Regions from separate parts of the Homo sapiens genome. Here region 1 is linked to region 2. Evidence: fine-mapped expression QTL. A gene starts in region 2. The other region holds a variant in brackets. All regions are shown on one strand. Distances are from middle to middle.

Region 1 (4,272 bases), 120 kb before region 2:
AATTTCAGCTTTCTACGTATGGCTAGCCAGTTTTCCCAGCACCATTTATTAAATAGGGAATCCTTTCCCCATTGCTTGTTTTTGTCAGGTTTGTCAAAGATCAGATGGTTGTAGATGTGTGGTATTATTTCTGAGGGCTGTGTTCTGTTCCATTGGTCTATATCTCTGTTTTGGTACCAGTACCATGCTGTTTTGGTTACTGTAGCCTTGTAGTATAGTTTGAAGTCAAGTAGTGTGATGCCTCCAGCTTTGTTCTTTTGGCTTAGGATTGTCTTGGCAATGCGGGCTCTTTTTTGGTTCCATATGAACTTTAAAGTAGTTTTTTCCAATTCTGTGAAGAAAGTCATTGGTAGCTTGATGGGGGATGGCATTGAATCTATAAATTACCTTGGGCAGTATGGCCATTTCCACGATATTGATTCTTCCTACCCACGAGCATGGAATGTTCTTCCATTTGTTTGTGTCCTCTTTTACTTTGTTGAGCAGTGGTTTGTAGTTCTCCTTGAAGAGGTCCTTCACATCCCTTGTAAGTTGGATTCCTAGGTATTTTATTCTCTTTGAAGCAATTGTGAATGGGAGTTCACTCATGATTTGGCTCTCTGTTTGTCTCTTATTGGTGTATAGGAATGCTTGTGATTTTTTGCACATTGATTTTGTATCCTGAGACTTTGCTGAAGTTGCTGATCAGCTTAAGGAGATTTGGGGCTGAGATGATGGGGTTTTCTAAATATACAATCATGTCATCTGCAAACAGGGACAATTTGACTTCCTCTTTTCCTAATTAAATACCCTTTATTTCTTTCTCCTGCCTGATTGCCCTGGCCAGAACATCCAAACTATGTTGAATAGGAGTGGTGAGAGAGGGCATCCCTGTCTTGTGCCAGTTTTCAAAGGGAATGCTTCCAGTTTTTGCCCATTCAGTATGATATTGGCTGTGCGTTTGTCATAAATAGCTCTTACCATCAATACCTAGTTTACTGAGAGCTTTTAGCATGAAGGGCTGTTGAATTTTGTTGAAGGCCTTTTCTGCATCTATTGAGATAATCATGTGGTTTTTGTCTTTGGTTCTGTTTATATGACGGATTAGGTTTATTGATTTGCATATGTTGAAGCAGCCTTGCATCCCAGGGATGAAGCCAACTTGATTGTGGTGGATAAGCTTTTTGTTGTCTGCTGGATTCAGTTTGCCAGTATTTTATTTAGGATTTTTGCATGAATGTTCATCAGGGATATTGGTCTAAAATTCTCTTTTTTGTTGTTGTTGTGTCTCTGCTAGTCTTTGGTTTCAGGATGATGCTGGCCTTATAAAATGAGTTAGGGAGGATTCCCTGTATTTCTATTGACTGGAATAGTTTCAGAAGGAATGGTACCAGCTATTCTTTGTACCTCTGGTAGAATTCAGCTGTGCATCCATCTGGTCCTGGACTTTTTTTGGTTGGTAGGCTATTAATTATTGCCGCAATTTCAGAGCCTGTTATTGGTCTATTCAGGGATTCGACTTCTTCCTGGTTTAGTCTTGGGAGGGTGTATATGTCCAGGAATTTATCCATTTCTTCTAGATTTTCTAGTTTATTTGCATAGAGGTGTTTATAGTATTCTCTGATGATAGTTTGTAATTCTGTGGGATCAGTGGTGATAACTCCTTTATCATTTTTTATTGTATCTATTTGATTCTTCTCTCCTTTCTTCTTTGTTAGTCTTGCTAGCGGTCTATCAATTTTGTTGATCTTTTCAAAAAACCAGCTCCTGGATTCATTGATTTTTTGAAGGGTTTTTTGTGTCTCTATCTCCTTCAGTTCTGCTCTGATCTTAGTTATTTCTTGCCTTCTGCTAGCTTTTGAATGTGTTTGCTCTTGCTTCTCTAGTTCTTTTAATTGTGATGTTAGAGTGTCAATTTTAGATCTTTTCTGCTTTCTCTTGTGGGCATTTAGTGCTATAAATTTCCCTCTATGCACTGCTTTGAATGTGTCCCAGAGATTCTGGTATGTTGTGTCTTTGTTCTCATTGGTTTCAAAGAACATCTTTATTTCTGCCTTCATTTCATTATGTACCCAGTAGTCATTCAGGAGCAGGTTGTTCAGTTTCCATGTAGTTGAGCAGTTTTGAGTGAGTTTCTTAATCCTGAGTTCTAATTTGATTGCACTGTGGTCTGAGACAGAGTTTGTTATAGTTTCTGTTCTTTTACATTTGCTGAGGAGTGCTTTACTTCCAACTATGTGGTCAATTTTGGAATAAGTATGATGTGGTGCTGAGAAGAATGTATATGCTGCTGATTTGTAGTGGAGAGTTCTGTAGATGTCTATTAGGTCCACTTGGTGCAGAGCTGAGTTCAAGTCCTGGATATCCTTGTTAACTTTCTGTCTTGTTGATCTGTCTAATGTTGACAGTGGGGTGTTAAAATCTCCCATTATGATTCTGTGGG[AG/G]TCTAAGTCTCTTTGTTTCTAGGTCTTTAAGGACTTGCTTTATGAATTTGGGTGCTCCTGTATTGGGTGCATATATATTTAGGATAGTTAGCTCTTCTTGTTGAATTGATCCCTTTACCATTATGTAATGGCCTTCTTTGTCTCTTTTGATCCTTGCTGGTTTAAAGTCTGTTTTATCAGAGACTAGGATTGCAACCCCTGCCTTTTTTTGTTTTCCATTTGCTTGGTGGATCTTCCTCCATCCCTTTATTTTGAGCCTATGTGTGTCTCTGCACATGAGATGGGTCTCCTGAATACAGCACACTGATGGGTCTTGACTCTTTATCCAACTTGCCAGTCTGTGTCTTTTAATTGGAGCATTTAGCCCATTTACATTTAAGGTTAATATTGTTACATGTGAATTTGATCCTGTCATTATGATGTTAGCTGGTTATTTTGCTCATTAGTTGATGCAGTTTCTTCCTAGCATCGATGGTGTTTACAATTTGGCATGTTTTTGCAGTGGCTGATACTGGTTTTTCCTTTCCATGTTTAGCACTTCCTTCAGGAGCTCTTGTAGGGCAGGCCTGGTGGTGACAAAATCTCTCAGCATTTGCTTGTCTGTAAAGGATTTTATTTCTCCTTCACTTATGAAGCTTAGTTTGGCTGGATATGAAATTCTGGGTTAAAAATTCTTTTCTTTAAGAACGTTGAATATTGGCCTTTACTCTCTTCTGGCTTGTAAAGTTTCTGCTGAGAGATCCGCTATTAGGCTGATGGGCTTCCCTTTGTGGGTAACCTGACCTTTCTCTCTGGCTACCCTTAACGTTTTTTCCTTTATTTCAACCTTGGTGAATCTGACAATTATGTGTCTTGGGGTTGCTCTTCTCGAGGAGTATCTTTGTGGCGTTCTCTGTATTTCTTGAATTTGAATGTTGGCCTGCCTTGCTAGGTTGGGGAAGTTCTCCTGGATAATACCCTGAAGAGTGTTTTCCAACTTGGTTCCATTCTCCCCGTCACTTTCAGGTACACCAGTCAGATGTAGATTTGATCTTTTCACACAGTCTCATATTTCTTGGAGGCTTTGTTCATTTTTTTTTACTCTTTTTTCTCTAAACTTCTCTTCTCGCTTCATTTCATTCACTTGAACTTCCACTTGATCAAATTGGCTACTGAAGCTTGTGCATGCATCACGTAGTTCTCGTGCCATGGTTTTCAGCTCCACCAGGTCACTTAAGGTCTTCTCTACACTGTTTATTCTAGTTAGCCATTCGTCTAATCTTTTTTCAAGGTTTTTAGCTTCTTTGCGATGGGTTTGAACATCCTCCAAACTTCCTTGGAGAAGTTTGTTATTACTGATATTTTTAAGCCTACTTCTGTCATCTTGTCAAAGTCATTCTCCGTCCATCCTTGTTCCATTGCTCTTGAGGAGCTGTGTTCCTTTGGAGGAGAAGAGGTGCTCTGATTTTTAGAATTTTCAGCTTTTCTGCTCTGGTTTCTCCCCATCTTTGTGGTTTTATCTACCTTTAGTCTTTGATGATGGTGACCTACAGATGGGGCTTTGGTGTGGATGTCCTTTTTGTTGATGTTGATGCTATTCCTTTCTCTTTGTTAGTTTTCCTTCTAACAGTCAGGACCCTCATCTGCAGGTCTGTTGGAGTTTGCTGGAGGTCCACTCCAGACCCTGTTTGCCTGGGTATCACCAGTGCAGGCTGCAGAACAGCAAATATTGCAAAACAGCAAATATTGCAAAACAGCAAATGTTGCTGCCTGATCCTTCCTCTGGAAGCTTCATCTCAGAGGGGCACCCAGCTGTATGAGGTGTCTGTAGGCCCCTACTGGGAGGTGTCTCCCAGTTAGGCTACTCGGG
Region 2 (4,272 bases):
AGCACAGTGTCCTTCAGCCTGCACTGCTTTGGGCAAGGAATCATATCAAACCAGGCCAGTGGAGGAGAATTTAAGAGACAGAATTTAAGACAGAGCCCTCAGGAATATTCCCCCGGGAGGGAGGAAGGCCTGCTTCCATTCAAAGGAGATGGGCACTAAGACTGAGGCCACCCATTTCAGAGTTTCACACACATCCAAATCCATCTGCCCTCCTGCCAGCATCAGCACCAACTGCCAGACCCAGCACCACAGGGGCTGCCTCATATGACGTTCTGTGTTTACCGATCCTAATCGAAAGAGCTGATATGGGTAAGCCCTTGATAGCCTTCAGCATGCATGCATGTCCAATACCTCTTGCAGCAATCACACTGAAAGGTACTGCAATTGTTCCCATATAATAAATACAGAAGTCAAGGTGCAGAAAGGCAAAGCAACTTTGCTAAGTAGTAAAAGGTAGAGCCAGAACTTATCCTGAATCTTCTGACTCTAAGTCCCAGGCTCTTTGCATAACAAAGGTAAGTATATACCAAAGACCCAGAAATCAACCCCACATCTGATATCCAGACAAATGTTCAGCCAAGTGCAGAAGTGGCCTCTGAGAGAGAATCCATACTGCTCCCATAGCCTGACACCTTCACCTCCTGATCAGCCAGTGAAATATGGAATTTGACCCCAAAAGTAACCAAATGCAAGGGAGATGAGGGGAGTATCATTGAATAGTGATTCCAAGCATAGGTTTTAGAGTCAGATATACATGAGTTTCAAATGTATTAGCTACCTTTCCTTGAGCAACTCATTTCGCTTCTCTAAGCGTTAATGTCCTTACATGTACGATAGAAATAATGCCTTACATAGCTGTGAGAGTCAATCAAATTATGTATGAAGAGCTCTGAGCATGAATTATGTATTATTTTGAGCCTGCTGCATAGAAAATACTCAGAATTTAGCTTCTTTTTATTTTACACACACACACAAATATAACCATAGACATCATTAGCTGATGAGCCGCCATTGGCGTCCTCTCTATTACTGATAATTAACGTCCTTGTGGTGACTTGCTCATCATACTGCCTCTATTGTCTCAGCCAGAATAAGCCTTAAAAAGGAAATGAAAGCAGAGGTATGGAGTGGAAAGAACACTGGACTAGCAGTAGAGAGAATCTCAATTTCATTTTCAGCTCCACTACAGATGTGCTGTGGGACTTGAACAGGTCGGTCCCCTTCCTATCATTTTTTACATCTGTGGAGCGAAGGGGTTAGATGAGAGGCCTAAGGCCCTTTTCAGGACTCTTAACTCTGTGTTGTAGGAAGCCAATGATCGGCAAAATGGTGCTGAACCCCCTACTGGCTTGAACAGTACGAACTCTTGCCTCAAATGGCTGGTCTGAGAGTTTCAGCCACTGGGAACAGTTCTCTTTCCCTTTGGATGGGACTCTTGAACCTAGGCCAGGACTCAGAGGTCCCAAATGAAAACAGCCCCAGTCATTCCATAACAAAGGGAAAGGCACCCAGAGCCAGCGAGGAGATGAGTCTGGGAAGCTGTATTTCACTGTCACAACTGAAAAATCTTCCATGCACCCAGCCTCCCCCTAGCCACCCCAAATCTCAGGGGGAAGCCACCCCTCATCCAAAGTTACCCTTCTCACAAGTAAATCAGCAACTCCCCTGAAAAACAAAAAGTGCTTGGTCTACACTATCTCCAAAACTCAGGACCTTCTAACACCACTACTAAATGTCTAAAAACTTAGCTCTCCTGCTCTGCCTTCTTCATCCTGAAACTAACTCTGCAATCGGCCTGTCTTGCCTGCCAACAATTTCAACTCTGCTAACACTGTTTATTGTATCTTGCAGCTGCTATAGATTCATTTATTTTGCTTCAGGCTTCTTTGGTTATTACTGCTCTTTATTCTTCCCTTCATAGCATAAATCCAGACCCCCAAAAACATGGGATCTGATTTCTCGAGTCTGTGGTGCCTCATTACGTTCCCTTCCTTGTCTGACTTAAAACGCCCTTCTGTTTCCTTTTTAAAACTTTTCCTGAAACACCAAAAGAAGTATATGCGGAGCTTTCATTTTCAAAAAAGAAAAAATAATAAAGAAAAAAGACCCACATAACTTACTTTCATCCAGGGGTGCACAGTTTTGGAAAGAAGAAAACAGAGCTATAATCCACTGCGTTTCCCCAACCCAAAAAGAAGAATTTGTTGTGAAACGCTTCTTTTTCCACTTTGCTGGTGAAGGAGCCCGGTGGTAGGCATACATCCACAGGCTGATGCAAGATGCCTTTGAGAGAAACCTCACATTCTGAGGATTCCTGGGAAAGCGCCAGGGATCCCAGCATCCAATATATTGCACATTTGGTTTCAATTAGGAAGGGGGTTGGGGAGGGAAGAAGGAAAGTCACCAATCAGAGCTGTTTTCTGTTTGGAGACTATTTCTTTTGACCCAAGGGACTATGGGCAAAGCTATAATTTACAGCAAAACCCATTCATAGAAGAAAAAATATGTATAACCATAGGACAGACTTAAAGACACCGCTCCCTTCTGCCTTATTCCCACCCATATCCATCTCCACTTCCTTCCCCTCCATCTAAGACTTGATCCCCTTCCTGTGATCCCCACCCCCCCGCCGCCTACCCCACACCTCATTTTTCTTACTTGAGCTGAAGCTATAAGCAAAACTTAAAGTTTGGAGTTTTCCAATTGAAGCTTCCAGGACAGTTGGGGCACACACGCGGAGCTGACCTTTAGTATTTTGACCATGAAAGCCTAGAGCTGAGCTCTCCCCCGAAAGATTTGATTTAATCCCTTCCCACCACGGCTCCCCCCACCAAGAAAACAACTGGAAACTGCCAGAATCCAGGATTCCTATTTTTTTCCACTCAATTCCCAGTTGGCTGCTGCCTCTGAGGGTCTGTTGCTGTCCTGGATTCATGCTGCTAAATGAAAACACAAGCATTTATAAGGACTTTCTAAATTATTTTGTGAACTTTTTTTTCCCTCCTTTATCTTCTCCCCGCTTCCACAGCTATAGTCAGAGATCATGTGAAAGGGGCGGGTAGGCAACAGGGGAGGAGCCTTCACTCCACTCTCCAAACGATAACTAATAACCCTCTCCATCCATCCAGGCTCCAGCCTTAACCCTTCAGAGCCTGGATCATTCCTGACCAAGCCCACGCTGGGCTGTTCTGGAGGTCCTGATTCTCCGTGAGTATGGAGAATGCAGGGCAAGCAGGGACCCAGGGGCAGGAGATCCAAAGAGAGAGGTAGATGGCAAAAGGCAGGTCAAGAAGACCGAGCTTACCTTTGAGAGCCAGACTTCTTGTAAAGAGACCTCCTTTCTCTGAGCTCTGGAGCTATCACCAGCTCTTCTCTGTTTGTAGTTAATCTGGGATTGCACAGTCTCCAAGATGAGCAAGAAAAGAAGTGAGCAAACAGGAAAGGGAGGATGGAAAGAGATCATGGAGGAACGTTCCCATAGTAAGTTAGGGGCAGGAGATGTTTCATAAGGGGAATGGAAAAGCGCACACACACACACACACACACACACACACACACACACACACACAATGAGGGTGGCCATGAAACTGAGAGCTAGTGTTGAGTCAGTGTTAAGTCCCTAAAAGTCTCATAAGCTCAGCACCAGTCTGAGGGTCAGAAAGCAGCCGTTAACATCTGTGCCTCACAGCTGTTACAGAAAAGGACACGGAGAACATGGGAATGGTTCAGAGGGCAGCCATGGAAATGATTAAAGGCAGCAAGCAAGACCTTAGAGAAAAAACTAGAACTAGGGTTAGTTTATGAAGAGAAAAGACACTGCAGAGATCAACTTATTAAGAAGACTCTTCAAATAACTTACAGCATCTGAAGTCAGGCCTGAGGGTGACTCAGGCCAGACATGCAGCTCAACTCAATAAATATGTGTTGGGCTCTTATCAGGCACTTTACTGGGTGCTTGCCAGAGACAACTAGAAATCCTCCTCAAATGTCCATGCCTGTAGTAGTTCACCTCTTTGGCATTACTATAAAGAATGTACCAAAAATACAATCTGTGATTTCACAGATTTGGTGATACTATAGGTCAAATGTGGAAAACAGTAACAACTTCATAAAACCAGACTGAGCCTGATAAAGGACAGGGCCTGTACATATAGGTATGTGTTTTCCTTTTTCATTTTAAGGTGGTTCTACTCCATAGGTGAGATTGTTTTTTCTCTGTGTATGTATAATTAGAACTCAAGTTGTAGTCTTAATTGAGCCAGGACTGAGCCA

What was found. PIP is the estimated chance that this variant, and not a neighbour inherited with it, causes the effect. A credible set is the group of variants that fine-mapping cannot tell apart.
Region 1: its variant is the best candidate, but not a certain one, in a credible set for the expression of DDR2 in whole blood (TOPMed, PIP 0.51).

What each region holds. Positions count from the first base shown.
Region 1 is chr1:162,746,689-162,750,960 of GRCh38, reverse strand. The region is part of intron 3 of DDR2 (discoidin domain receptor tyrosine kinase 2); the gene reads right to left. Among named protein-coding and RNA genes, the nearest start is that of HSD17B7, 42 kb to the left of the region's middle. The variant AG/G (reference allele first, on the strand shown) is at 2,423.
Region 2 is chr1:162,630,480-162,634,751 of GRCh38, reverse strand. DDR2 (discoidin domain receptor tyrosine kinase 2) reads right to left here and starts at 2,288. Exons shown (of 18, transcript NM_006182.4): 1 at 2,121-2,288. RefSeq lists enhancers at 3,441-3,540, 3,831-4,010.